Linked DNA regions of Homo sapiens. The protein of the gene in region 3 interacts with the protein of the main gene of each other region in a biochemical or structural test. Each region holds a gene or a part of one and is shown on either strand. Other genes may lie near its edges. The genes, in order: RGS11, GNG2, GNB5 and RGS6.

What was found.
Region 1: the proteins of GNB5 (region 3) and RGS11 form a complex in vitro, tested with the Homo sapiens proteins (one study listed by BioGRID).
Region 2: the proteins of GNB5 (region 3) and GNG2 form a complex in vitro, tested with the Homo sapiens proteins (one study listed by BioGRID).
Region 4: the proteins of GNB5 (region 3) and RGS6 form a complex in vitro, tested with the Homo sapiens proteins (one study listed by BioGRID).

The regions. Positions count from the first base shown.
Region 1 is NC_000016.10:272,898-280,082, forward strand, and holds the start of RGS11 (regulator of G-protein signaling 11), read right to left. Parts: upstream 3,048-7,185; 5' UTR 3,015-3,047; coding exon 2,952-3,014; exon of another isoform or gene 2,941-2,951; intron 2,602-2,940; coding exon 2,505-2,601; intron 2,443-2,504; exon of another isoform or gene 2,437-2,442; coding exon 2,386-2,436; intron 2,186-2,385; coding exon 2,079-2,185; coding exon of another isoform or gene 2,060-2,078; intron 2,002-2,059; coding exon of another isoform or gene 1,906-2,001; intron 1,369-1,905; coding exon 1,317-1,368; intron 1,205-1,316; coding exon 1,146-1,204; intron 940-1,145; coding exon 863-939; intron 660-862; coding exon 578-659; intron 35-577; coding exon 1-34. UniProt on the Homo sapiens protein: Inhibits signal transduction by increasing the GTPase activity of G protein alpha subunits thereby driving them into their inactive GDP-bound form.
Region 2 is NC_000014.9:51,863,412-51,870,706, forward strand, and holds part of GNG2 (guanine nucleotide-binding protein G(I)/G(S)/G(O) subunit gamma-2 precursor), read left to right. Parts: intron 1-7,295. UniProt on the Homo sapiens protein: Guanine nucleotide-binding proteins (G proteins) are involved as a modulator or transducer in various transmembrane signaling systems.
Region 3 is NC_000015.10:52,132,303-52,139,597, forward strand, and holds part of GNB5 (guanine nucleotide-binding protein subunit beta-5), read right to left. Parts: intron 3,455-7,295; coding exon 3,311-3,454; intron 1,168-3,310; coding exon 1,076-1,167; intron 1-1,075. UniProt on the Homo sapiens protein: Enhances GTPase-activating protein (GAP) activity of regulator of G protein signaling (RGS) proteins, such as RGS7 and RGS9, hence involved in the termination of the signaling initiated by the G protein coupled receptors (GPCRs) by accelerating the GTP hydrolysis on the G-alpha subunits, thereby promoting their inactivation.
Region 4 is NC_000014.9:71,935,206-71,942,500, forward strand, and holds part of RGS6 (regulator of G-protein signaling 6), read left to right. Parts: intron 1-7,295. UniProt on the Homo sapiens protein: Regulates G protein-coupled receptor signaling cascades. Inhibits signal transduction by increasing the GTPase activity of G protein alpha subunits, thereby driving them into their inactive GDP-bound form. The RGS6/GNB5 dimer enhances GNAO1 GTPase activity.

The DNA.
Region 1 (7,185 bases), on a different chromosome or scaffold from region 3:
CTGGACCCTGCTCCAGCACATCGGGGGCCCCGGGCTGCGGAGGGGAGACGAGATGAGGTGGGGATGCAGTTCCGGTGGCTGACCCCCTTTAAGGCTAAGTTCCCCCTCCCAGACCCCCATGTGGAAACTGACACTCAAAGGAACTCGGGAAGAGTCCCGACCTAGCCGTCAGCTGTCTCTTCTCTGCTCACCACCTCCAAATGGCCTGTCCACCGGGCCTCCCCACAGCCCCAGCTGCTCCCGGCCTGTGAACTCGGTCCCCCCACTGCAGCCAAGGCCGCCCCCACTCTGCCTGCTCCCGAGGCAGAGTCTGCAGTCCCCGCAATCTGGCATCCCTGTGACTCTCCCTTGGGCCCAGAGAGAAGCTGGCTTGTCCTGTGGTCTAGGGATGGAGACCTGGGTTCTGATTGGCAGAAACGCAACTAAGTCACGAAGTGAAAACGTCCTGCCCCCACCAGGAGCTCCAAGGCAGGTCCTTCCACAGGCTCAAAATGGTGGTCCTGAGAGCGCCTGTCAGGGAAGCACGCTGACCCCTGCGCTGGCCAGCGACCCCCACCCTCACCGCAGGTGGGCTCACCGGGGGCCTGTTCACCAGCCAGTAGGTCTGCTCCTGGCACGCAATGACCAGCCTGTCCCCCTTGCTGCGCTGCTTGGCTGCCCTGGGAGGAGGAGGCCGAGTTGAGGGCACGCCCTGCACACAGCAGCCCCTCCGCCCCCACCCTCAGGCCTGGACCTGGGCAGGCAGCCACACCCAGGGGTGCCCTCCACGGTCCCAGGGCCACCGGAGCCTGGCCTGGGCTGGGCTTCCCGGGTAGCCTGGGTTGGGCGCCTGCAGGCGGGGCGGGGCAGGGCGGGGCCTCACCTCAGCTGCTCCCTCGCCTGCATCAGCACCAGGTCCCATGCGTGGTTGATCTTCTTGTGTAGCCGGTCATAGCAGTCCTGGGGGCAGCGAGGTTTCCAGTGGGTCACCCCGGCCCCTGCCCCCAGTGAGACTGTGTGGGCAGTTGGGGGGTTGGGGACTGTCTTGGGTTTTGGGGCCTGGGCTGTATGTTCTGGGGTAAACCGTGAAGCCCCGGGGGGCCGTGAGTGAGGCTTGGGTTCCTCCAGCTGTACCCAGCCGGGGCGGGAAGGGTGGGGGGTCCCACCTTCTCATAATCCACCAGGGTCCCCCGTTTTCGGATGTTCTTCTTGGCCAGGTAGATGGCTGGAAGAACAGGGACAGCCTGCAGAGGGGCCAGCTCTGCCCTGCCTCACGGCATCACCCTGAGGCCCCCAGTCCTGGGAACTTGTCTGGGGCCAGCCGTCCCCTTGCTCACCATAGTCCAGCTCTGCAGCCGGCCTCAGGGTACTTGTCCAGAAGTACGGGGTCTGGCGTGGTGCAGGGAGAAGGTGTCCAGGACGCCTGCGTCTGTGCCTCCCCAGTGTCACCCCACCCTCAGACCTCCCTGGGAAGAAGCCTGGGCTGGGCAGGAGGTGTCTGAGGATCTCCCTGCCTGCCCACCACCGAGAGACTCCACTGACCACTGGCCAGTCTCTCCAACTAGAACTGAGGTCAACTCGCTCCTTAGGGCCCTGTTCAGACACTGCCTCCCTCACTGGTCACCCTAAGCCCCCATTCAAGGCGGGGTGGGGCTGGGGGCCTGCACAAGTCTTGGATGTAGTCACAGTCTGTGCCTGGGGAGGGGTACAACCGACGGCAGGTCGGCCCGGGACCCTGATGTGGTTAGGGAGGGCAGGAATGCTGTCCTCAGGCCTTCACAGCCCCTCCCTCAGGACCTGGGCCTAGGGACCCCCAGGAAGATGGCAGAATCCTCTGCACATACGACCCCTTGTGGGGCCCTGCTGTGGTCCCCAGGAAAACTGAGGCTCCATCCCTCAGCCGGGTCCTTCTCACCACATCCGTACTTGCGGTCCAGGACTTTTGGGGAGGGGGCGATGGACCACCAGCCCACGGCGACATGGCGGAGTCCCACTCCAATCCCAGCAAGCTCGGCGCCCCTCCTGTCTCCCCGAGTTGGTAAGCTGGGTGGGTGGGGGTGGGGGTCCCACCGGCTCCCACCTGCACCCCCGAGCCTGACCTGGAACCTGTAGGGCGTCTCGTCTGGCCGGAGCATGAGGCTACGGGGGTCGCGCAGCGGGTAGATGTAGCCATGCTGCACCAGGACGGCGCCCAGGTGCAGGGCCTCTGGGGAGGGGTGGGACGGTGAGCGCGGGGCCGCGGAAGCGGGCGAGGGCGGGACGAGCCGGGCCTCCTCTCCCCTATGTGCTCCCCACCCTTGCACAGCGCGCTCAGCAGGGCTCTGAGAACTGCCAGACTCCAGGAAAACCCAGGCCTAGGCCACCAGCCCAGTGACCCCAGGGCCCAGTGGGAGGCAGGGCGCTCACCCTCCTCCGAGACGCAGAACTTCTGGGCCAACCACTGCACGACGTCGCTGCCTGCACGGGAGAGACAGAGGTGGAGGGAGGCCGAGGCGCGCACGCACCCCCGCCCCGGCGCGCCTCACCTGTCACCGCGTGGGGAATGACGGTGACCAGCAGGCGCTGGCTCCGCATCTTCACGCCCTGGTCGGGGTCCTGCATGCTCACGACCACCCGCTCCATCTGGGCGGAGGGAGTCGTCAGGGGGTGTCTGGCCGCCCCGCAACCCTGATTCCCTGGCACCGGCCGGGATGCCCCGGATCCGGGAGCGCGGAGATTAACGCGCGGCGGCGGCGGATTCCAGGCCGCAGCTGGCGGCGGGGACGCGGGGCGGGCCGGGGAGGGCCGGGGAGGGCCGGGGAGACCCCGGAGACCCCCAAGGGCCCCAGGCCTCGCCGCCCCTCCCGGCCTCGCAGACCTCCGCCCCAGGCCCGCCCCGCCCCGCGCGCCCCCGTGTCCCCATGCTCTCCGGCCCCTCCCGGCCTCGGGCGCCGGGAAATCGGGGGACGGCGGGACACCCACCCGCCTCGCACCTTCCTCAGATGCGGCATCTGCGCCCGGGGGCGGCCGGGGGGCGGCGCGGGGCCGGCGGCCATGGCTGCGGGGCGAGGCCGGCGGGGATGACCGACGTCCCGCCCGGCCCCGCCCCGCGCCGCGCCGCGCCCGGGTTAACCCTCGGGCCGCGAGGCCAGAGTCGCCCAGGCCCCGGTTCGGGTTTTAAGAGACACGGCCACGGCCCAGAGGCAAACGAGCCGGCCCCCCACGAGCGACCCGAGTCACCCCCCCGACCCAGGTCCCGGGACGCTGAGGCCCTCGTGGGTGAAGGCGAAGTGGGACGGGGGAGGGTGTGGGCCGGGGGCCGAGGGGGGATGTGAGGGGATGGAGCTCAGCTGGAGCAGGGGGTGGTCTCTGGGAGAGGCAGAGGGGCTCATCAGCGAGGGGGGGTTACTATGGGGAGGGTCTCAGGGAGGGCAGCGGAGGGGATGGGGGTTCAGAGAGGGAGAGGGGTTCCGTGAGTAGAGGAGACCCGTAGGGAGAGTGAACTGGGGTGGGAAACGTGGTTTAGGGCCCACTGTAACCCCGGTCCTATGTGTGGGGCCCTGAGGACATACAGGGACTAGAGGCCTGGCTGTGGGGCCGGGGCCAGGGCCAGCGGTATGACTGCCCGAGGCCTTGTGTCCTGCGATGCTTGTGGCCAAGACTGCATACATTGCTGTGACGGTGGCTGGTTAGGGGCAGGGTGCATGAGAGATTGGGTCAGCTTTCTACATGGGCCGGATGCCGGCTGTCAGTGGAGCACGTGGCTGCTGCAGAGTGTGACCCAGCTGTCCCCATCTCCTGCTGTGGGTCCCTTATCCGGGGTCCTTCCGGGAAAGTGGCTGATGGCTCATGGCTCACTTCCCTCAGCTCCACGCAGGCCTGGGTGGCCCGCTGGGGAATGAGCAGAAACCCTGCCCAGGGCACCCTGACACTGTTGGAGAGGAGCTTTACTGCAGGGAGGCCCTCAACACACACCCACTTAGTGTCACCGGCGGCCGCCAGGCTTCAGGCCCCACTCCACTCCCAGCTCTCTCCCTCCTCCAATGGCTATGCCTGTCCCCCAGGTGCACCCCGAGCCAGGCCCAGGATCTTCAGGCCCCACCGGGCAGTCTCGGCTCACTGCAACCTCCGCCTCCTGAATTCAAGCAATTCTCATGCCTCAGCCTCCTGAGTAGCTGGGATTACAGGCTCCCACCACCACGCCTGGCTAATTTTTATTTTTGTTTTTGTTTTTGAGACGGAGTCTCACTGTGTCACCCAAGCTGGAGTGCAGTGATGCGGTCTTGGCTCACTGCAGCCTCCGCCTCCTGGGTTCCAGCGATTCTCCTGTCTCAGCCTCCTAGGTAGCTGGGATTACAGGCACGCGCCACCACACCCAGCTAATTTTTGTATTTTTAGTAGAGATAGGGATTCACCACGTTGGCCAGGCTGGTTTCGAACTCCTGACCTCAGGTGATGTGCCTGCCTTGGCCTCCCAAAGTGCTAGGCTTATAGGTGTGAGCCACTGTGCCTGGCCGATTTTGGTATGTTTAGTAGAGATGGGGTTTCACCATGTTGGCCAGGCTGGTCTCAAACTCCTGACTTCAGGTGATCCACCTGCCTTGGCCTCCCAAAGTTCTGGGATGACAGGTGTGAGCCACCACACCCGGTCGGATCATTTTTTAAAAACTAAGTCGAGGTCTCACTATGTTGCCCAAGGTGGTCACAAACTCCTGGGCTCAGTCCATCCTCCTGCCTCAGCTTCCCAGCGTGCTGGGATTAAAGGCATGCCCAGCCAGCATCTTTTTTTTTTTTTTTTTTTTGAGACTGAGTCTTGCTCTGTCAGGCTGGAGTGCAATGGCGCAATCTCGTCTCACTGCAACCTCCTCCTCCCAGATTCAAGCAATTCTCCTGCCTCAGCCTCCTGAGTAGCTGAGATTACAGGCCCCCGCCACCACGCTTGGCTAATTTTTGTATTTTTAGTAGAGACAGCATTTCACCTTGTTGGCCAGGCTGGTCTTGAACTCCTGACCTTAGGCGATCTGCCCACCTCGGCCTCCCGAAGTGCTGGGATTACAGGCCTGAGCCACCGAGCCCAGCCTCAGCACCATTTTTAAAAGGTGCAAATGCATCTATTTCTGCTTGCTTTCTTTATTTTTTAAATTATTTATTTATTTATTTTGAGATGGAGTTTCACTCTTGTTGCCTAGGCTGGAGTGCAATGGTGCAATCTCGGGTCACTGCAACCTCCGCCTCCTGGGTTCAAGCGATTCTCTTGCCTCAGCTCCCAAGTAGGTGGGATCAGAGGCATGCGCCACCATGCCCGGCTAATTTTTTTTTTTGTTTTTTTTTTTGCATTTTTAGTAGAGATGGGGTTTCACCGTGTTGGCCAGGCTGGTATCAAACTTCCTGACCTCAAGTGATCCACCTGCCTTGGCCTCCCAAAGTGCTGGGATTACAGGCATGAGCCACCGCACCTGGCCACTAATTTTTTTTTTAATTTCATTTTTATTTTTGTAGATAAATATACACGTAGCCCCTCGCTTATCCCTGTCTGTAAGGGCCTCAGTTTCTTGCTGTGTTGCCTAGGCTGGCTGATCTTGAACTCCTGGCCTCAAGTGATCCTCCTGCCTCAGCCTCCCAAATGTTGGGATTACAGGCATGAGCCATGGCACCTGGCTATGTATTTATTTTTTGAGAGATGGCAGTCTCATTCTGTCACCCAGGCTGGAGTGCAGTGGTGCAATCATAAACTCATTGCAGCCTCAAACTCCTGAGCTCAAGTGATTCTCCCACCCCAGCGTCCTGAGTAGCTGGGACTACAGATGTGTACCACCGCATCTGGTCTATTTCTGCTTTCTTGGAGGCAGAGTACCTCTCCCCATCCTTACCCACTCAGAGGGTGCTAGGGGCTGGGCAGGGTGGGCGGTTGGCCTTGGGCTGGGAGCCCCTAACATAGTGGTCTGAGTCCATTTCCATTGCCGGAGAGGCCACGTTCAGCATGAGCTGGGGCAGGGGGCTTGTGGGGTCTCTTACTCCAGGGTACCATCTCGCTTGGATCCCAGTGAGCCCTCCCATGCCCCACACCCAGGTGGGGTGAGGTGGCCCAGGTCTGGCTGCCCTGTCTGCAGGGGTGGGCACCCATGGTAGCTGTGAGGCAGAATAGGGAATGAGGGTAGCCAAGGGTTGGGCATAAGAAACGGAACAGCAGGTGCAGCCAGTTCTAGGCAGGATTGGGCAGCTCACAAGCCACATCCTGGCTGCTGTGATAACAAGACAGAAATTTCCACTTCACCTCTGATTGGTCTCGGGCCAATCCTTCATAGGGTGTAGCCAATTGGAGGCCTCTAAAGGGCACAAGGGCTGTGGTCAGGTTTCTTTGCTTAATAAAAATCCTAATTACAGAGGCTCTGGAGCTACTTGCTCCAGCCCACTCCCACTCTGTGAATTGCCTTCCGTTAAATCTGTGCTTTCCTTACTCCGTTCTTCTGACTCAGTTTTGTTTCCTTGTGTTTCGTTGTTCTTTTGTTACTTTGTGCGTTTTGTTCAATTCTTTGTTCAACCCACCAAGAACCTGGACAACTCACCTCCAAGACCTTCTATCTGGTAACAGCTGCAGGAGCTGGAGCTGTGGGCCTGGGGACAAGTGTCCTAACAGCCCCCGCTCCCTGCAGCGAAGGGTCAGCAGAGGTGGCGCTCTAGGGGGGCCTGGGCACAAGTTCATAGGATCCTGCCCTGGAAAGGTTGTGGGCAGTTGGGGGGCAAGGGAGACAGTCCCCACCCAAACCCCAATGCCCCCTAGCACCCAAGGTGGTCTTCTCTCAATTGAGGAGCTCTTTGGCAAGGGCGGGTCTAATTTCTGGTGTCCCTGGAACCGGCCAGGGGTGTCTAAGAAAGGGACTCAGGCTGGTGTTCGGACCCCTTCTCCCTTATCCAGACGCAGGCCTTTGGTCCAGCTGTCCCAGCCAGGGCCTGCTCACCCCTGTCCCCTGCCGGGTCCCATCCCCCCCACCCACCCACAGGTCTCAGTTTAGGTGTCAATATCAGAAGCCCCCTCTGTGCTCCGGTCTCTGTACTCCGCCCCCTTGTCAGTGTCCTCTCCCTGAGGACAGGGGGCTCGGTAACTGGGTTTCCAAGAGCCCTGCAGGGACACCCCCTCTTGGGAACTCACACAGCGCAGCCAGGTCGCTAAGCCTTTGAGGGGCCCTTGTTGCCTCCTGGGTGTGCGTGCGACCCGCGCCCACTGTG
Region 2 (7,295 bases), on a different chromosome or scaffold from region 3:
AGAAGGTACTGAAATGTTATTTTTTTCTTCCTTGGTGGCATAAGGAAAAGTTAGCATATTCTTGGTCTTTACCACTGCCTCACAGGTTTAGGGAGACTTTTTTTATAGTGATAAAATATACATAACATAACATTTCCCATTTTAACTATTTTTTTAAGTATGCAGTTCTGTGGTAGCGAGTACATTGATGTGCTGTCATCACCACCGTCCATCCATAGAACTGTCTTTATCTTGCAAAACTGAAATTCTATACCCATTAATCAATACCTCCTCTTTCCCTCCTTCTCTCAGCTCCTGGAAACCCCCATTTTACTTCTGTCTCTATGAATGTGACCAAGTATCCCATATATGTGAAGTCATACAATATTTGTCCTTTTGTGACTGGCTTAATACACTTAGCATAATGTCTTTAAGATTCATCAATGTTGTAGCATGTGCTAGAATTTCCTTCCTGTTTAAGCTGAATAATATTCCATTGAATGTATAGACTATACTTTGTTTATTCTCTTTTGATGGACACTCGGGCCATGTTTTGGCTATTGTAAATAATACTGCTATGAACACGGGTGTACAAATATCTGTTAGAGTCCCTGCTTTTACTTCTTTTGGGAACCCAGAAGTGAAAATGATGGAACACAGTAATTATATATTTAATTTTTGAAGAATTGCCATACTGTTTTCCATAGCAGCTGCACTATTTTACATTCCCACCAGCAATGAACAAGGATTCCAACTTCTCCACATTCTCATCAATATTTATTTTGTTTTTTATTTATGTTTTTGATAATAGCCATTTTAAGAGGTATGAAGTGGTATCTCTTTATGGTTTTGATGAGCATTTTCCTAATCACTAGTGATGTTGAGCATCTTTTCTTGTGCTCATTGGCCATTTGTATATCTTCTTAGAAAAATGTCTATTCATATTCCTTGCTGATGTTTTTCCCCAGAAATACTGTGTTGAGAATATTTGCAAATTTTTAATCAAATTTTTGAAGAGACATTTGCAAATGGCAGGATCTTTTAACATAATGTGTCATTAGATAATAATCATAATCTTCGTATTTAACCTCCTTTATACAACAGTATTATCCCTGCGTAAATAAAATACTCCTCTCAAAAGTAACATTTGAAATCAAAAGGACAGAGTAAGAAAATGTGCATAGCTTCTGCTAGTTGGTGATGTCCAGAACCTGATAGTGAAATTCAAACCTTTATTGTAGACAGTCACACCAGTGATTCTGCTGGTCAAATCTCAGACCAGGCTACCACTACGGAGGCACTGGAGAGCTGTTTCTTCAGTGCTTTTCTGGTCCCCTCATTAGAGAAAAATGCTCAGTAGGTATCATGGCCAGAAAGGGAGGGGAGAAACTAAAGTACTAAATTGCTCTGAAATCCTTTATAAGGGGGAGCAGTAACTTGTGGGGAGGGGCTACAGTAGTTAAACAATACAACAAGTTTCTGAGACAACAAGTTTCTACTAATGAAGTGTGATCCTAACCAAAATTTCACTTTTAAAAATAATGAATCCTCTGTTTCCTTTTCCACGACAGATTTTACTCCTAATCCTTAAACTGGTGAGGCAGGGTATGGTGAGGCTGAGGAGAGCTGGGCAGAACAATTAGCAGGGACCCTATTGAATAGCAACAGTATCTGAGCTTTACGATGTGGGGTCAGACGTTGACCTTGAATGGTTTGAAGAGCTCCTGAATAATTAATGTTAACTTTCTGTAATGCACTTTGTCCATGTGCTGGGGGCCAGGGGTGGAGGGAAGTTTGCAAATAATGACCCCTAATTTTATTTAATGTGCACATCTATTCATTCTACAATTACTGGGAGAAGCCAGGTGCCTGTCTTTACTAGATCTGGGTGGGAGAGGAGAGTTGCAGAGCTGTGTCGAGATTTAGTCTCCACCCTCCCACCCTCACCTCCAAGATGATGACTATGTTAATTAGCCTGATTTGATCATCACAATGTATACATGTATCAAAACATCACATTGTACCCCATAAATATACACAATTTTTATTTTTCAATTAAAAATATAATAAAAAATTTATAAAGGACTTAGTCCCTGGCCTAGGACATGCTAGAATGGTAGAGCTAAAAATGATCTGGGGGGTGACCTAGCCTATATTGACCTCTTCATAAGGGATAATAAAATAGGCCTGGAATTTAGAGTTAAACAGTTCATTAATTCCTCACCTCCCAGTTACAACTCCATTTCACTTACCTCATATTAGGGCAAAGTCTTTATATGTTGTCACATTTAAAATTGTTTGTAAGACTAAAATATTTTGTTTAAAAAAAAAGAGTAGACGGTTTACATTTAGTACCCTATGTAAATATGGAGTTTCTGTGTACAAACTTGTTCAGGTGTGAAAGATGCCACTGTGGAATAGAGATTTAAATTTTCAGGTAAGAGTATTAGAGATATCTGTAAATATATGGTTCTTGAAAATTCTTATGTTAAAGACAACAAGTTGTATTTAGTGGGAGTCAGTGTTCAGACAATCTCTAGAGGACTTCATTAAACACTGAAAAAAAAAAAAGGGAGCTCAATTCTCAAACTTTAGTGATAACATGTTTCTTAGAAGTGGTACTACTGTATACAGAGGCTGGAGATAAGACAGGATCAGCCCCTTTATCTCTTGGCAAATATGTGTAAACAGTCAAGCTGTTAATGAAAAAGCTTTGAAAAACCAGTCTCTTGACCACTTCTTCCCTGTTCCCTGGCCTTCCCTTGCTCCCTGGCCAGCCCGGGTGTGGGGTCAGGCATTCCCCTGATCCTCTTCCCAGGAACCCAGCACTCAGAGGTAGAGGAGAGGGGCTGAAAACTGGGCTGACTGGTTCTACTCTAGATTCACTGCATCTCCGCAGGGCCATTGCTGTTCTTTCAAAATTCTTTCCTTCTTCCTTTTTTATTTCACTTTTCACTCTGTCCTGTGCATTTTCAATGGAAACCATTCAACCAAGTCCCTACTGCCTTTGTGCGTTAGAAGTGACCTCACTTTCTGTCTTTCTGAGAAGGCACATATTACAGACTTCCTCAACCTCATTCTTACCACCTTAGAATTTCCCCACGTCTTCCTTTATTTTAGATCATTTGAATTGCTGTCACAAATTACCAAAGATGAGGTAACCCAGAAACAACAGAAATCTTTTTTTTTTTTTACACTTCTATGGGCTGGAAAGTCCAAGATCAAGGTACTGGCAGATTTGATGTCTGGCAAAGGCCGTGGACAGCACTTTCTGTGTGTCCCCACATGACAGAAGGGGCCAGCTGGCTCTCTCCAGTCTCTCTTATAAGGGCACTAATCCCATTCATGGGACTCCATACTCATGACCCAATCACCTCCAAAGGTGGCCTCATGTCCTAATACCATTGCACTGGGGATCAGGTTCCAACATATGGGTATGTAGGGGGACAGAAAGATCTGCGTCATTCACATCATTCATTCTCCTCTTCCTCCTAAGTCAAATTAACATCATCTTTCCTTTAAGCCAAGAATAAACCCTCTACTTGGACTCTCTATCCCATTCCCTTTTACTTTCTAAGGGATTATGTTGTGACAATAATTCTGTCTTTCCTACATATTTAGTTTCTTCTCTTTCTTGGTCCTTTCCTCTTTCCCTGTAAACATGCTTAGTTTTTCCATACGCACACAAAGTAATTAAGAAGTAGATGAAACAAATCTCCTCCTACCTCTCTGCGGGCTCCAACTTCACTAACTTCAGTTCCTGCTCCCCAAATATGAGTGTTCTCAAGATACGAGTCTTTGGCCATTTAATTTCTCCCTCTCCCTAATCAAATTCTGTCCTGTGATTTTAGTCACTGTTGCTGTGTGGGTCAGTCCCAAATCTGATGAAGCATCCTAATCATTCACCTCCTCTCTCAGCTTGTACAGCAAGCTGCCTGCAAATTCACCAGAACATCCAACCCACAGAAAATGAAACTCACATGTCCAAAACTGTGCTCACCATCACCTTTCCCACTCCTCAAAACCAGCTCCTCACCTGATTTCATAATTGTTAATGACACCCCATTTATCATTACCTCAGTTATGACAATTCAACTTCACTGTCTTCCTCACCAAGCACCTCTAGTTGCAGGAAGTTGCATGGCTCCTTGCAATTGTGATTGGGAAAATATCTTGATACTGACTCTTTTCCATGTTTATAGCCGGTGTCTTAGTTGAGGCCCTCCTAACCTCCAGCTGGGCTGACTTGTTTTTTGAGTTCTTTTCTCTCCGCCTAGGATAAGTTAGTTCCTGCTTCCCCTTCCACACTTTGTCCCCACAGTCTTACTTCTCTGAATAACCAAATTCCATCTGTCCTGTAAAGCTCAGTTCAAATGCTGCCTCTTTCATGAAGCCTCCCTTGGTTTCTTCCCTTTTTTCCCCAATAAAAAAACAATGCTCCTCTGAAATCTTTTGTTCTTTCATCACAGCATCTAGCTCATTCTAGTGTGTATAACAGCAATCTGCATAATTTTTTTTTTTGACCACACTCCAAGCTCTTTGAGGACAGCGGTCACATCTGGTTTCATCTTTGTCTTCCTTATACCACACAATGCAGTTTGTTTATCATTCATTTATTTAATGAACATTCTTGAGTGACTCATTTTTTGATGCAGAGTGGGCTAGACATAGTACTTGTCCTCTAAGAGCTCACAAACTCATGGGGAAAACAGACAAATACAGAAATATAATTACAATAGAATTAATCGATGTGTTCAAAGTCCTAATGTCTGCAATGTGCCATGTGCTCGTCAAGATGCCAGGGAGACTAGGATGAACAAAACTGGTCGGTTGTTTTCTTGAAACTTACATTCGAGTATTGAGAGAGACTCAGTAAACACATAAACCAGTGGTTTTTAGGTCTAACTGCACATTAGAAATCACTGAGAGGGTAGTTTGAAAAAAATATCATGTCCCAACCTCACCTCAGAGTAATTAAATCAGAATCAACCAGGATTGGAACCATTGACAGAAATGACTTACAATAAAAGAAAATGTCAAGTAGTAGTGAGTGCTTTGATGGATTGAAGTAGAAACAGGGTGAATGGTGGGACTGTGCCTATGCTGGCAGGGGTAATTGGGAGATTACTTTGTTGAGTAATCCCTGAAGGCCTCTCTGAAGAGGTGACATTTGAGTTGAGACCAAAATGATGCTGAGGATTCAGCCATGTAAAGATATTGGGGCGAAGGGGGCTTGTGGAGAAGGTTTTGAGCAGAAGGTGCAGGTGCCTTTCTGAAATAAGAATGAGGTGAGATTTCAGAGGAAATGTGTCCTTCTTCACATACATGTTCTGTAATCTACAAACTATGTCTTTTTCCCTACAGAAAGCAGCTTTTCGATAAACTTTGTAGACTCCAAATGCAGAACACTTGGCTGCTGTGTTGATTACTTGATCTGGGTTGGATTTTATTTAGTTCAAATTGATTTACACAGTCAGGAAGACTACTCTGTTTGATTACATTTTTTTCTCTACACTGCAATCAGCACTACACTACTTGTCTGAATTAAATACCATTCTTATTGTTTAAAATAACCTTAGGTACTTGATATTATCTTTATTTGAATAAAGAGGAGAAAGCAATGACTTCTGCCCTTATTCCTGTTTTGGGGAACCAGGGAAAGCCTCCTAGAGGAGTCATTCAGACCACACAGAGTAAAGAAAGCACTAACTAATTTGAATAAGTGAAGACTAACATATGTCAAGAATTAAGTTGAGAATGAACATTTGTTAGGCATTCAGTTTGTGCTGGATACTTTAGCTAGTTTTAAAAATAACCCTACGAAATAAGGACAATATTTTTCTATCAGGATATTTCTGGCTGCTGATAAAGGAATGTCCTACTAAAATGGCGTAAGCAATAGGAAATTGATCGCAAGACCTCTGATAGGAGGGTAGCTTCAGAGTTACTTATGTGGTAGCTGGATAATGTCCTTAGCAACCTGGATTCTTCCCTTCCTCCCACTGTGACACCTTCAGCAGGTTGATTTCCCCTCACTGTGTGGACATGGCGTCTACAATTTTGGAATTATAGGCATATTTCAATACGTAGAGGCATATCAAGGTGCAGCAGATTTCTTATGTGGCTCTTTCTGGTTTGTTGAAACAGGGCCTCGGTCTGTCACCCAGGCTGGGGTGCAGTGGCATGATCATGACTCATTGCAGCCTCAGCCTGCAGGTGGGAGGCTGATCCTTTCACCTCAGCCTCCTGAGTAGCTGGGACCACAAGTGTGTGCCACCATGCCCAGCTAATTTTTGTATTTGAGTAAAGATGGGGTTTCACCGTGTTACCCAGACTGGTCTTGAACTCCTGAGCACAATAGATCCACCCACCTCGGCCTCCCAAAGTGCTGGGATTACAGGCCTGAGCTACCTTGCCCTGCCGCGGCTCTTTTTAAAGTCACAGAAAATCTGTGTCCAGTGGAATTTCCACTCACAACTCACATGCTATATGTATGAGTAAGTAGGCAGACAGAACCACTGTGATTGGCTAATTTAAGAGTTTCCTCCCGAGGCCATGGAGCAGCCCAGGCTCGCTGAAGAACAAAGTCATCAGACCCCAGCAAAAGGGTCTGGTTCTATTAGCAAGGAAGAGGGGGTTAGTGGGTAGGCAGTCAATAGAGTTGGCCACTATTATTATTCCCATTTTATAAGTGAAGATATCCAGACTAAAAAGGTTAAATAACTGAGCAATATCATACAACATTGAATTGAACAAAGTTTCCATGCATTTCCCTTTGAGAAAAACACGAACAAAAGCCTTGTTTTTGGCTATATAACAAACCTGCACGTGTACCCCTGAACCTAAAAGAAAATATTAAGAAAAAAAAAACAACTTGTTTTTGTTGTTAGCAATGATCTAGGTAGGCCAGAGGAAGAATCCTGGCGAAAAACACAGACTGGAGAAAGCTAGGCAAAGTAAAGAATAACCTTCTAAACAAAATATTCCAGAAGGAAATACATCAGGTCCTATAAAGCAATAAGAATGGCATTTAATTTAGACAACCAGCCCTGCATTTCTGCATTGTAAAATATATATATAATTAAATTGCATTTTCCTGACTGGTCATTTAAATCAATTTGGTCTATATAAAAATCTACCCTGGGCCAAGTAATGAGCTAGAGACGCCAAGCATTCTGTGTATAGTATCTGTCAGACTTAAATGAAAACCTTGTTTTCTCTAGAGAGGTAGGTATTTTGTTGATTACAGTACCTGTAAAGAAGAATGGATCATCTCTGGAATTTCTGATTATGAGTTATTTAGAAAATAGTTTCCA
Region 3 (7,295 bases):
AGATAAAATCTCAGATATTTCATAATTCTTGACATTTCTCTGTCTCCACCATGTCTTCCTTAGTTCCAGTCACCATCATTTCTTTCTTGAACTCACACAACCACCTCTAACTGGTCATCATATTTCCATTCTTGTTCCCTACAATGTATTCTCCATACAGCCAGTGATCTTTTTTGTTTGTTTGGGTTTTTTTTTTTTTTTTTGAGACACGGTCTTGCTCTGTTGCCTAGGCTGGAGTGCAATGGCACCATCTCGGCTCACTGTAGCCTCAATCTCCTGGGTTCAATCGATCCTCCCACTTCAGCCTCCTCCACACATCACCATGCCCTGCTAATTTTTTTTTTTTTTTTGGTAGAGACAGGGTTGAGCCATGTTGCCTAGCCTTGTCTCGAACTCCTGGGCTCAAGCAATCTGCCCGCCTCAGCTTCCCAACAGAGCGATCTTTTAAAGGCAAAACATGATCAGGTTAGCCACCCCTACCCCTCCCAACTCAAAACTCTCCAGTGACCACCTGGCCTTTTGTTAGGTCCCTTAACCTCTCATCTCTGTGCTCTTCCCCCAGCTCTTTGCTTGCCTGGCTCTTTCATGATCCTGGCCTCAATGTAAAGATCACCTTCTCAGTGAGGCTGTCTTTGACCTCTAAGAAATGACCCATCCCATCTCCCTGTTTTACTTTTATCATAGTAGTTATCAGTATCTGAAATTGTATATTTGTGTTTGGTCTAGTTTGTCTCCTGTAAGAGAATAGAGACCTTGTCCATCTTGTTCACTGATATATTCCCAGTTCCTAGAATAATATCTAGCATATAAATACTTAATAAATATTTATTGAATGAATGGATGAAAAATGCTGATTCAACTTAGGGAGGATATTAATTGCTCCTAATGTAATTAAATTAAAATTCTCCATGAGTTCTGGAGCACTGTTCAGTTCCACCACAATCAGCCTTTCTTCCCGGGGAGGCCTCTCTCAGCCAAGTAAACTGAGTCTGGAGGCGGTTCCTGGGCTAAGGATTACCCAAGCCAGGCAATGCCGGCAGAACAGAGAGGTGGCATGAACATTCTACTCACTGACCGGACACTGTTGATGTCAGATTCATGTGTTTCAAAGGCCTGCACGCACTGGCCGGAGCGCATGTCCCACACCATGGCTTTCTTGTCACATCCCTACAAATGAAAATTAGCCAGAGTTATGGCCACTTTAAGGAATGTCTATAGACAAGGCACGAGTCCCAGTTATATAACACAGACCATTTATTTCCCATTAGCAAATGGTTGACAACACACTTTTCTGAGACTAGCTTTACCTGAGGGCACTTTCCTTAGTCAGAAAGCCCTTAGACGCCTAGAACTAGGTCTTGGGATGGGAGGCAGGAGGGAAGGCACTCGGCTTCCTCTTTTAGCTTGTTTTCTTCTTTTGCACATTTCTGAATGGAGGCAAACCCTCCTTACCCTCCCCCGGGCATCTCCCTTCCTTTCATTTTTCCTTCTTTTCTCTCTTCTCTTTATACTTGCCTCCCTAAGCCCAGAGGGCAAGGCAGGCAGGCAGTGGTGTGTGGTGGGACCTCTCTAGTTGTGACATTAATAAATGGGTTGGCAGTGCCCAAATGGAGCAGCCGAGAGTCCCAGCTTTGTTTTGGTGTATGGGGCAGCCCTCAGCAAAGCTGGAGAGCCAGGTGCCCCGGGCCATCTGCACCCTCAGCAGCATGCTGGGCTGGGAATCTGCAAACCAGGGGCCCATAAGGGTGCTGCCATCGACGCGCAGGGTGGCTTAGGCAAGTCACCTCCCTGGGCGTCTGCCTCAACACCTATAAAGTCAATGCTCTCTTCAGGTTGCTAACATGACCCAGAAGGTCACAGACATGAGGGTTTTTCCATTATCCTATCAAGGCTCTGGGAGTAGTTTGATAAGTTCCTGCAGAGTGGTCATGTTATCAAGCTTAAGTAGTAGAATGTGGACTCTCAATAGTCAAATAGCTTATATGATCAAACAGCTAAAAAGTAACAGCTTAAAACTGGTGTCTAAGTTGTTGGTTTCAACTTGGAGCAGAGGGAGGTGTGTAATGAAGCACCATCACACATCTGAGGAAGGCCCGCTGTGGGAGTTCAGCATCCCGAGTGTCTTTACTGAAAATGTGGGCAAAGAAACCAGAAAGGCCTTCACATCTTTAGAGGACACTCAATTGGATGCAGTTTAGTGCTCTGAAAGAGACAATATGATCTACAGTAATAGCAGTAATTTTTTAAAAACACAGTAGAGTTGAGGAGAGATAAATACAGTGATACCAAGGCACAGGGTTGAAACATCTACACATGGCCAAATACCCAGGAAGAAAATCAGGGTCCCTGCTAACTACAGCTCATACAGCCCTGGCCTGGCTCCCAGGATCGATATGTGGGCAGCCTGGAGCAAAGGTCCCTTATGTGTCCCAGCTGCAGAAGTCACCTGACAGTGTGTGCGTCACTGTCCTGTCTCACCACTGCCTCCTGACGGAGGTGAGACAGGACCCATGGTAAGGTCAGCTGGCCCAGCTCTCTGTCCTTATTCTCAGGCTGGCCCCAGAAAGACTTGCCCCTCCCATTTGCATACACACTGCAAACTCTTCCATCTACTGCTTGTACCATCCTGGGGAGGGGAAGTGCAAATACCACTATGCACTATGGCCAACTTATAGCGGATGCGACTTACAGTCAGGTAGCAAAGCCCTGACCCAGGCACCCTGACTCCTAGTCTAGTGCTTCTCTGAGTCTCTGTGGCCCTGTCTGCCAATTCTGAGCTTTCAAAGCCTCTGTTTCTTGCACCCTGTGATGGGAGGGAGGATGGTGGCTGGCAGGGGTAGGGTAGGAGAGTGCCCCACAGGCCTCAAAGTCCTGGTGGCATCACAGCGTTGCCTCAGCTCAGTAGCCATCTGACCTGCCATGCCCTTGTGCGCATCTCTGATGCTCTCAGATGCTAACTCTCTGCTATTTACTTGAGGAATGACATTTTAAAATGTGGCAGATATGCACCTTGAGTTGCAGCACTCATACAGGAGAACATTCCAGATTACTCTATAGACTGCTAACATCAGTGGCAGAACAGAAGGAGGCCCTCACAGCTTAGCCCTGTAGCTGCCCACCAAGCCCCCGAGAGGGGCCTGGAGCCAGTGCGGTCACTGCAGGAGCTGGGGGTTTAGTGGGGAGTTGAGAACAATTCCTGCAGCCCCTTCTAGGGAAGTGCCTAGGCTAATCCCATGAATGGACAAGAACTGCCACCATAAGCCTCCTTAGTGGACACAGGAGCCCTAGGGAATTTCCACTGGGTCTTTACCCCAGACACGAAGGTGTTTCCAGTTTCTGAGGGGGCCAGGTCCAAGCAGAGGACGTCAGCCCCATGTCCGTGGAAGCTCTGCAGCAGCTGCCCGCTCTCCACGTCCCACAGGGCACATGTGCCATCGCCGCTCGCTGTCAGGATCTGCCCGCAGAAAAGGACAGGAAGTGGGTGGTTGTGGTTATTGCTTATGCCGGGGGCAGTCAATCAGAGGCTTAACGTTCCGCAGGGAAAAGCAGAACACACACACACACACACACACACACACACACACACACACACCCTACCTGCTGTATCTGGGTTCATGCACAGAAATCTCTCTCCTATACAAAGAAGGAAAGAGTGCATTTCCTACACCCTCACAGTCCTTGAGTTGTGTTTATATGGTTGTGGTTATTGCTTATGCCGGGGGCAGTCAATCAGAGGCTTAACGTTTTGCAGGGAAAAGCAGAACACACACACACACACACACACACACACACACACAGGGAAAAGCAGAAAACACACACACACACACACACACACACACACACACACACACACACACACACACACACACACCCTACCTGCTGTATCTGGGTTCATGCACAGAAATCTCTCTTCTATACAAAGAAGGAAAGAGTGCATTTCCTACCCTCACAGTCCTTGAGTTGTGTTTATATGCCTGCCTCCCAGCAGAGCTGAAATCCTGGCGGCCTCATGGTGGTACCTACAGGGCTCTACACATGCCTGGCTCGTAGGAAGTGTTCCGTGAGTCTCTACTGAGTGTTTAAAACCTTCGATGCCTCCCACTGCTGTGCAGGCCAAAAACTTAAAGTGCTTCTTGGATACTGATGCATACACATCACTGGGCTGCTTGCTAATAGAGTCTGGGGTGGGGCCTGAGCGTCTACACTTCTCACAGGCTCCCAGGGAATGCTGAGGCTGGTCACGGGGCACACTGGGAGCAGCAGGGGTCTAGGCAGCATCTTGTTGGACATTCTCTGTTGCTGCTTTTCCCGAGCACAGTGCTGCCCAGAGGCTTCCCAGGACCACTGACGGGTGCCAGAGGATATTCACGCATACACAGGTTCAAGAAACATCTGCTGTGTGCTGACAGTGTCTGCCAGGCACTCTGCTAATGCATGAGGGTTTGCAGAAAGATTGTGTCTCAGTTTCTGTTCTCCCAGAACTCAGTTTAATAGGATTGCCAGTAAGAATGAAACCAACATAATTCCCCATCCCTGTGTTAAACAATTCTGGGACCAGGCCAACTTTCCTGTTACTATGTTAAACCATATTGAGACCAAGTAAAAATAACTTAACTGCTTGCTGCAGAAAATACCTGCTCCTGGGAGAAAAGACTGTGAATCGATTAGACAACTTACCAAGATTAACAGCTTGCTCATCCAGACTCAAAGACTGTTCGCTTGCTGGGCTCACCAATCCAAAGCTAAAACGGCCTTGCAAGACCCACCTTAAAATCACCAAGCCTGGACCCTGAAATCCTCTAAGTACCCTTCCCTAATTCCTCCATTTTCAGAACCTACTAAGATTCTGCCAAGTGGAGGTTCTCCCTTACTGTGGCAGGTCAGATAACCTTAGCTTTGCTTGGTTGCAAGTATTTCTGATGTTCGCTTGGGGAGTTGACATCACCAGTAGACAAGGATCAATGACAACAGCATGAGAAGTGCTGGGATCCAGGTGTGCACACAGGAGGGTCCCAAACCCAGTGTGGTGATATCTGAGTTGGTCTTCAAGGAAGAGTGAGAGCTGGCCAGGTGAAAGAAGGGAAGGGGAGAGACAAACTCCAGGGGGGCCTATGTCTGCACTAAATGAAAGGTGAGCCCGTTCACAGGTGGGGACTCAGTCTGAAGCCAAGAGAGCACTCTGGAAGCTTCTGGGCAGGAGAATGAGAAAAGCAAACGTATGTTTTAGGAAACTCTGGCAGAGGCCCAAAGAGCCTCTGGATAGCTTACAAGTACAAAGGTCAGCCATAGAGTAAAGGCACACAGGGGTGCCCAGGGAAAGACATGGGGACAGGGCTGGAATTTTACTTTTTGTCACTGCCAGTGTGTATGAGGCCTGGGCTCTGGCTGAGCATACCTTCCTGGGATTGGGAGAAAGGCAGTGAGGACTCAGGGTTCGGGGCCCTCATAGGCCCAGCTGGCGGCATCACAGAGCCCTGGAGCCAGCTGGGTACTGACAGCAATGGAGGGGACCTGCAAGGGAGAAGCTCTCCCTGCCTTCTGGCTGCTCCACAGGGCCTGGGTGAGGTGATAAGACCGTGGAGGAAGTGGCTCTTGCAGCATAAGTGTCCACAAGAGAGCCCTTTGCGGATGATTACTGATGGCTGAGGAAAGAAAAGAGGAATCAGGCCTTATGCACCGCTAGCATGCAATGCAACCACTGACCACACCACACCTTCAATTTCCAGCTGCTGATGGGATCTCTCCTCCTCACCCTTTGCCCCCTTTCCCTTTTTCTTCCCCTCTCTCTTATATGTTAGGCCTTGAACATAAAGAATCTCATTTTTTTCCCAGCACTTTGGGAGGCTGAGGTGGGCGGATCACCCAAGGTCAGGAGTTCAAGACCAGCCTGGCCAACATGGTAAAACTCCAACTCTACTAAAAATACAAAAATTAGCCAGTTGTAGTGGCTCACGCCTGTTGTCCCAGCTACTTGGAAGGCTGAGGCACTAGAATCGCTTGAACCTGGGAGGCGGAGGTTGCAGTGAGCTGAGATCACGCCACTGTACTCCAGCCTGGGCAACAGAGTGAGACTTGGTCTCAAAAAAAAAAAAAAAAAAACTCATTTTTTTTTCTTTTTTTGCAGGGAAGGAACAAATTACAAGGAGGGGAATCTGCTCCCGCCCTGGTGTTGCACCCACTGGCTGTCCACAGGACCCCCTCCAGCCTTGACTTCCCTCAGGAGGCCTGCATACATCCAACAAGATGACTTAAGCTAGCAAAGTAGCTTATGGACACACAAAACCTGAACCGAGGCTGAAATTTGGGTACTCATATTTTGTTGGATGCTCAAATTCCCTCAATCTCTCCTGGCCCACACCCACTAGTGGCTGTTCCAACTCACTGCTTTCCTAATAACACTTGCAGTAACTTACAGTTTATTTTGAGACACCAGGTCCAAACAATTTTCTTTAAGCAACTACCCCAGTCTTGCTCTTTAATTTAGGAAATTTTCATACCATACTGTTTGATCAAAGAAATGAATAGTTTTTAAAAGTTAAAAGTAGATTTCTAATACTTTTCAATTTTGTGTTTCTGATCTTCATTATAATATAAGTAAAAATAAAGTTTAAAGACCAAACATTTATTCATATAAATGCATTAAACAGAACCCCTAACTCATTGTCACTCATTTGTTCTGGAATGCAGAGAATTTGTAAGTTTAATACCATAGTCTCATACCAGCCGCTTGAGTTTCTCTTTTATCAACCTAGATCCCAGGGATTGAAGAAAGCTGGAGGTTCATGAGTTCAGTAGTACCCAAACTAGGCCATGTATCAGCATCATCCATGAAGCTTTGTGTTAATAATAATAAAATTGGCTGGGTGCAGTGGCTCACGCCTATAATCCCAGCACTTTGGGAGGCAAAGGCAAGTGGATTGCTTGAGCTCTGGAGTTCAAGATCAGCCAGGGCAACACACCAAGACCCCATCACTACAAAAAATACAAAAATTAGCCAGGCATGGTGGCGTGTGCTTGCAGACCCACTACAGGCCTACCAGCTACTTGGGAGGCTGAGGCAGGAGAATCACTTGAGCCTGGGTGGTGGAGGCTTCAGTGAGCCCAGACTGTGCCACTGTACTCCAGCCTGGGTACTAGAGTGAGACCCTGTCTCAAAAAACAAACAAACAAACAAACAAATAATAAGAGTTAACGCTTACTGATATTTACCAGGGACTACACTATGTACATGAATCATCTAATTTAAGCCTCAGAAAACCTTATGCAGGACAGATTTACTACTTTACTATCCTCAT
Region 4 (7,295 bases), on a different chromosome or scaffold from region 3:
ATAATATTTCAAAAAACAATTTTAACTTTTCCCCTGATTCCAAAAGTAATATTTAGCTATTGAAACAGTTCAGGAAAATACAAAGAAAAAAATAAAGGTTATCCATAATCTGCTAGGGAGAGGGAGCCACTGTTAACATATCTTTAACTGTATATTCTTCCAAATATTATTCTAGTCAATTATTTCTACCCAGTCCCCCTCCCCCACACATTTTTATAAATATAAAATATAGCTTGGAAATATAACTTGGAAATGTGTTAAAGGCTTGGGAATTTACTGCTTGTTTACAGAATGATTTTGATCAGATATTAGTTTTTACTGGTGGTCCTTATTTTCAAAAAGAGTAGGTTCTTTCTTTTTCTGTTCTTTGAAAACAAGTGTTTGCACTTTGGGCTGGTAATGCTTGGGGCTTCCTTTTGAATTTAGGGATTAAAGCATCAGAAAAGAAGTAGAAAGGTCATTGGCCATTGTGGGTGGGAGACCTGAGTTCTGGTTGCAGTTACTCCAACTTCTCCTGTGGCCTCTGGGCCTCTGTTTCCCTAAAGGGCAAAAGGTACTTTTAGATTTAACTAATTAAGCTAATGACGTATTTATTGCTTTGACATGAGAATGATCTTTGAAGAGGGCTTATTCAAACACAGAAACACCTGGGGGTCATCCTGGGAGTCTCTGATTGATTCTGTCTGAGATGGGGCCCGAGAAGGTACATATCTAACAAGTCCCTGGATGATGCTGACTGCTGGTTTGGTGACAGTGAAAACTAGAGGGTTAAGTGTACTAGGGTTCTCTTAGAGGGACAGAACTAATAGGATATATATATATATATATATATATATGTACATATATATCATATATACATATATGCTATATATATGCTATACATGATATATATACATATGATATATGTACATATACCATATATCTATAAAGGGGAGTTTATTAAGTATTAACTTACATGGTCCCAAGGTCCCACAATAGGCTGGCTGTAAGCTGAGGAGCAAGGAGAGCCAGTCCAAGTCTCAAAACTAAAGAAATTGGAGTCAGATGTTTGAGGGCAGGAAGCATCCAGCATGGGAGAAAGATGTAGGGTGGGAGGCTAGGCTCATTTCTCCTTTTCATGTTTTTCTGCCTCCTTTATATTCGCTGGAAGCTGATTAGGTTGTGCCCACCAGATTAAGGGTGGATCTGCCTTCCACAGCCCACTGACACAAATGTTTAATCTCTTTTGGGCAACACCCACACGGACACACCCAGGATCAATACTCTGTATCTCTCAATGCAATCAAGGTGACACTCAGTATTAACCATCAAAAGCCCACCCCTTGTCAACTTGAACCCATACATATCTCCTGAGATCATACATAATCTTCAAATAAAGACAATAATGAGGTCAAAATTGTGCATAACATAATACAACTATCCTTTGTACAACCAGAAATGCACCAATCCCCAATGCAAATACTATTACATAAAGTTAACAATACTTACATGCTGTTGTGAAGTCAATAAATCTTATGTCACATGATAAAGGAAAAGGAAATGAAGATATTTTCTTAGTATGAGTGTATATATACACAAACATGTTTTTAACAAAAGAAGGAGGAAATACTCTTGACAATTACAGTCTGTTTCTGCAGCTGGTCACATGGTCGTAGCTGGTATTGATGACTACCTTCTTCTACCCATTCAGTATTCCTTTTGCCTACAGCAAGCACCTCAGCAGGTTCTTTTCCCTGGTGGAGTGACCCAAACCTTTATTCCTGAAGGATCTGGACCATTTGTAGTCCCGCCTGGATTGGGCTGTTGTAGTTTCCTGTTGACCTTAATCACAGGGCATGGTAATACTGAGAGATGCCCTAATGGATTTCCTGTGTTCCATATGTAGTCTTCCTTACCTCTGCTGTGGAGTAGTAGACTGATTTCCTCTTGATAGTCCAGGTCAATCATGCCAGCCAACACAGTAATTTTCTTCTTAGCCTGTTGACTGAAAGATAGGAGTATCCCAAACTGTCCAGGTGGCAATCTTAACTTCCAGTTTAATGGAATCGTTGTGTTTCCTGGTGGCAGTGTTCCTCCCTCTGGAACTAAGATCTCTAGGCCAGCAGAAGGTAATGTCTTGGGAACAGGAAGCAAAAATTTTGCTAGTGGATCAGTAGGGGTGATGGTGAGTGGTGCCACTTCCACTTCCGCCCCTTGATTCCTGGACCTGTGAATCCTGGCTATAGGAGAAACAGTACCATATATTGGATGCTGATTCAGAGCATACACGGCCCTCTGGAGAACTCTGCCCCAGCCCTGCAAAGTATTGTCACCTAGTTGGCATTGTAATTGTGACTTCGAAAGGCCATTCCACCATTCTATCAATATAACTGCTTCAGGATGATGGGGAGCATGGTAAGACCAGTGAATTCCATGAGCATGAACCCACTGCCACACTTCTTTGGCCATAAAGTGAGTGCCTTGGTCAGAGACAATGCTGCATGGAATACCACGATGGTGGATAAGGCATTCCGTGAGTCCACAGATGGTAGTCTTGGCAGAAGCATTGTGTGCAGGATAGGCAAACCCATATCCGGAGTAAATGTCTATTCCAGTGAGGACAAACCTCTGCCCTTTCCATGATGGAAGAAGTCCAGTATAATCAACCTGCCACCAGGTAGCTGGCTGATCACCCTGAGGGATAGTGCCATATGGAGGGGTCAGTGTTGGTCTCTGCTGCTGGCAATTTGGGCACTCAGCAGTGATCATAGCCAGGTCAGCCTTGGTGAGTGGAAGTCCGTGTTGCTGAGCCCATGCATAACCTCCATCCCTGCCACCATGGCCACTTTGTTCATGGGCCCATTGGGTGGTGACGGGTGGCTGGGGAAAGAGGCTGAGTGGTGTCCACAGAACAGGTCATCCTATTCACCTGATTATTAAACTCCTCCTCTGCTGAGGTCACCCGTTGGTGAGCACTTACATGGGATACAGATAGCTTCACAGTTTTTGACCACTCAGAAAGGTCCATCCACATAACTTTTTCCCAAATTTCTTTGTCACCAATTTTTCAATCATGCTTCTTCCAAGTCCCTGACCATCCAGCCAAGCCATTGGCTACAGCCCATGAATTGATATATAATCGCATATTGGGCCATTTCTCCTTCCATGCAAAGTGCACAGCTAGGTGCACTGCTTGAAGTTCTGCCCACTGGGAAGATTTCCCTTCACCTCTGTCCTTCAGAGATGTCCTAGAAAAGGCCTGTAGTGCTGCAGCTGTCCACTTTTGGGTGGTGCCTGCATATCGTGCAGAACCATCTGTGAACAGGCCCTAGTCTTCTCCTCCTCTGTCAACTGATGATAGGGAACTCCCCATGAGGCCGTGGGTGCAGGCTAGGGGAGAGAAGGCAGGGTGGCAGGAGTGGAGACCATGGGCACTTGAGCCACTTCCTCATGTAACTTACTTGTGCCTTCAGGACTTGCCTGAGTCAGATCACGTATATACCACTTCCATTTGATGATGGGATGCTGCTGTGCACAACCCACTTTATGGCTAGATGGGTCAGAAAGCACCCAGTTCATGATAGAAAGTTCAGGTTGCATGGTGACTTGATGACCCAGTCAAACGTTCAGTTTCCACCAAAGCCCAGTAATAGGCCAAGAGCTGTCTCTCAAAAGGAGAGTAGTTACCTGCAGAAGATGACAGGGCCTTGCTGCAAAGTCCTAGAGTACTCCACTGTGATTCACCTATGGGCGCCTGCCAAAGGCTCCAAACAGCATCCCTATCTGCCACTGACAACTCAAGCACCATTGGATCTGCTGGATCATATGTCCCAAGTGGCAGAGCAGCTTGCATAGCAGCCTGGACCTGTTGCAGAACCTTCTCCTGTTCTGGACCCCACTCAAAACTGGCAGCCTTTCGGGTCACTCAATAAATGGGCCGGAGTAACACACCCAAATGAGGAATGTGTTGCCTCCAAAATCCAAATAGGCCCACTAAGTGTTGTGCCTCTTTCTTGGTTGTAGGAGGGGCCAAATGCAGCAACTTATCCTTCACCTTAGAAGGAATATCTCAACAGGCCCCACACCACTGGACCCCTAGAAATTTTATTGGGGTAGAAGGTCCCTGAATTTTAGTTGGATTTCTTATCCTCTGGCTTGCAAATGTCTCACCAGTAAGTCCAGTGTGTTTGCTACCTCTTGTTCTCTGGATCCAATCAGCATAACGTCAATGTAATGGACCAGAGTGATATCTTGTGGAAGCAAAAAGTGATCAAGGTCTCTCTGAATAAGATTATGACACAAAGCCAGAGAGTTGATATACCCCTGAGGTAGGACAGTAAAGGTATATTGCTAGCCTTGCCAGCTGAAGGCAAATTGCTTCTAGTGGGCCTTATGGACAGGAATGGAGAAAAAGGCATTTGCCAAGTCAATGGCTGCATACCAAGTACTAGGAGATGTGTTAATTTGCTCAAGCAATGAAACCACATCTGGTACAGCAGCTGCAATTGGCATCACCACTTGGTTAAACTTATGATAATCCACTATCATTCTCCAAGATGCATCTGTCTTCTGCACAGGCCAAATGGGAGAGTCAAATGGGAATGTGGTGGGAATCACCATCCCTGCATCTTTCAAGTCCCTGTTGGTGGCACTAATCTCCTCAGTCCCTCCAGGCACATGATACTGTTTTTGATTTGCTATTTTTCTAGGTAGAGGCATCTCTAATGGCTTCCATTTGGGCTTTCCCCCCATAATAGCCGTCACCCTACTAGTCAGCCAATGTGGGGGTTCTGCCAGCTGCTAAGTATGCCTATGCCAATTATGCATTCTGGCCCTGGGGAAATGACCACAGGATAAGTCCAGGGACCCACTGGACACACTATAAGCTGGACCTGAGCTAAAACTCCATTAATTATCTGACTTGCATAAGCCCCTAGCTTAAATGGAGGACCACAATGATGTTTTGGGTCCCCTGGAATCAATGTCAGCTCAGAGCCAGTGTCCAGTAGTCCCCGAAATGTCTGATCATTTTCCTTTCCCGAGTGCAGTTACCCTGGTAAAAGACCAGAGGTCTCCTTGGGGAAAGATGAGAGAAAGATCTACTGCATAAATTTTCAGTCATGTAGTGGAGTCCTTCCTTAAGGGGACCCAGCCTCCCCTTTGTCCAAAGGGTTCTGGGTCTGTAAACTGGCTCAAGTCTGGAAATTGAATGAGGAGCCGTGATTCTCTGTTTTTATAATTCAAATTAGTCTTTTGTCCATTCAACCTAGAAGTTTTCTGTTTGTGTAATTGAAGTAGGAATGCAGTAGGCTTCCTATCAATTTCACTTTTAGGAACACCATGATTAATTAGCCAATGCCAGAGCTCTACATGAGTCAGACTATTCTGATTGCCACTTTGCCTCTGCTGTCCATTATGGTAGTTATGCTCACCTTGCCTTTGATGGTTGAGTGCTGCCACTTGACCCCTGCCACCTGGTCCCTGCCACCTCTGGATCCAATTATTCCCATTTTGTAGTTGAGTGACTGTGGTTCCCACCATTAGATCTGACATACAGAGAATGGCAATTACAGGGCTCTTCAAAGATGCAGGTGCTGCCCTCCCAAGTCTATTTTGCAAGGCATTGGTCAAGGGTATATCTTCTGGACCCTCCCAGCTGGGATGAGTAGGTCTAAAGGGACTAATCCACTCCACCACCCCAATCTCCCTAAGCCTTTGGATTCCTTCCTGTACATTAAGCCAAGGGAGATCAGGCATTTCCAGCTCACTCACAGTGGGCCGCCTTTAAGAGCTTGTGTCTATTTTTCCACAATTTCGGCTCTTTCTCTAGGAGATAAGACTCTCACTTAGTGTAATCTTAGCAGATTTGAGGCTCAGTATCTGCTTCTGAAGCTGGGAGACAGAATCCCTGAGTTCATCATTTTCTTTCATCACTTTGTCCGTTGAACTTAAGAGCAGCCAACCTGCTTCACTGTGTTCCTTGGTTCTCCACATATGGTCAAATGTGCTATGTACAGAGTCGCTAAACTCCCTGCCTCTCATGAGCGGTGAATTAGGAGTGTCAAAGGCATTTATTTTGCATAACTCTCTAAACAGTTTCTGCCAAGGACTATCAGTGTTTTCTATACTATTAGAAGTAGAGTCCTTAGCATTTTTGGGTCTAATCATATTAAGCAGCCAACTCCAGAAACCCCAAAACCAACGAAAGAACTCCATTCTTAATATTCTGTTCATCTAGAACCACTCCTGGTACCAAAATCTGTATTAGGTTTCTCTTAGAGGGATATAACTAATAAGATATATATGTCTTAGGGAGTTTATTAAGTATTCACTTACACAATCACAAGGTCCCACAATAGGCTATCTGTAAGCTGAGGAGCAAGGACAGCCAGTCCAAGTCCCAAAACTGAAGAACTTGGAGTCAGATGTTTGAGGGCAGGAAGTATCTAGCATGGGAGAAAGATGTAGGCTGGGAGGCTAGGCTCCTCTCTCCTTTTCATGTTTTTCTGCCTGCTTTATATTCGCTGGAAGCTGATTAGATTGTGCCCACCAGATTAAGGGTGGATCTGCCTTCCCCAGCCCAATGACTCACATATTTAATCTCTTTTGGGCAACACCCACACAGACACACCCAGGATCAATACTCCGTATCCCTCAGTGCAATCAAGTTGACACTCAGTATTAACCATCACAGTAAGCTCCTTACAGGCCAAAATGCCTGTTTGACTTTTCACAGGCTTTCACAGTAAGCTCCTTACAGGCCAAAAAGCCTGTTTGACTTTTCTTTGCAGCCATCCATCCAGTGCCCCAAAATATACCTGCCAATAGGTGTTCAGTAAGCATTGGTTGAATCAATATTAGTTTTCTCTTATGGAGGAATATCTTTCTGGAGTAGTCAAGACAAAAGAATAATCATCCAGAATTTGGAAACATTAAGCCTGTAATAAGAGTTATAATCATTCATGGACCACACTACTTCAAACTGCAAAGAAAGCAAAAATGCTTATAAGTAGGCAATTAAATTGAACATTAAACCTAATGAGTTACATTAAATAATAACTAGGAATACCTGTTTGAGATGTTACAAACCACAAAGCCTACCAAATACTTCACCGTTACCTCTCTCAGGTCTGGAAGAGGCCATTTATTTTCTACCACATACACATATTTCAAAAAATGGAAGTTTCACTATTAATTACCCTAATTACCAAGGCAGCAGATAAAGCAAGCAATCTCCTTGCTCCCCTCTCCTCATCCCCCATCCCTCCCACCAAGAAAAAAGGCTCATTAGAACTCTACCACCATTCTATAAGATA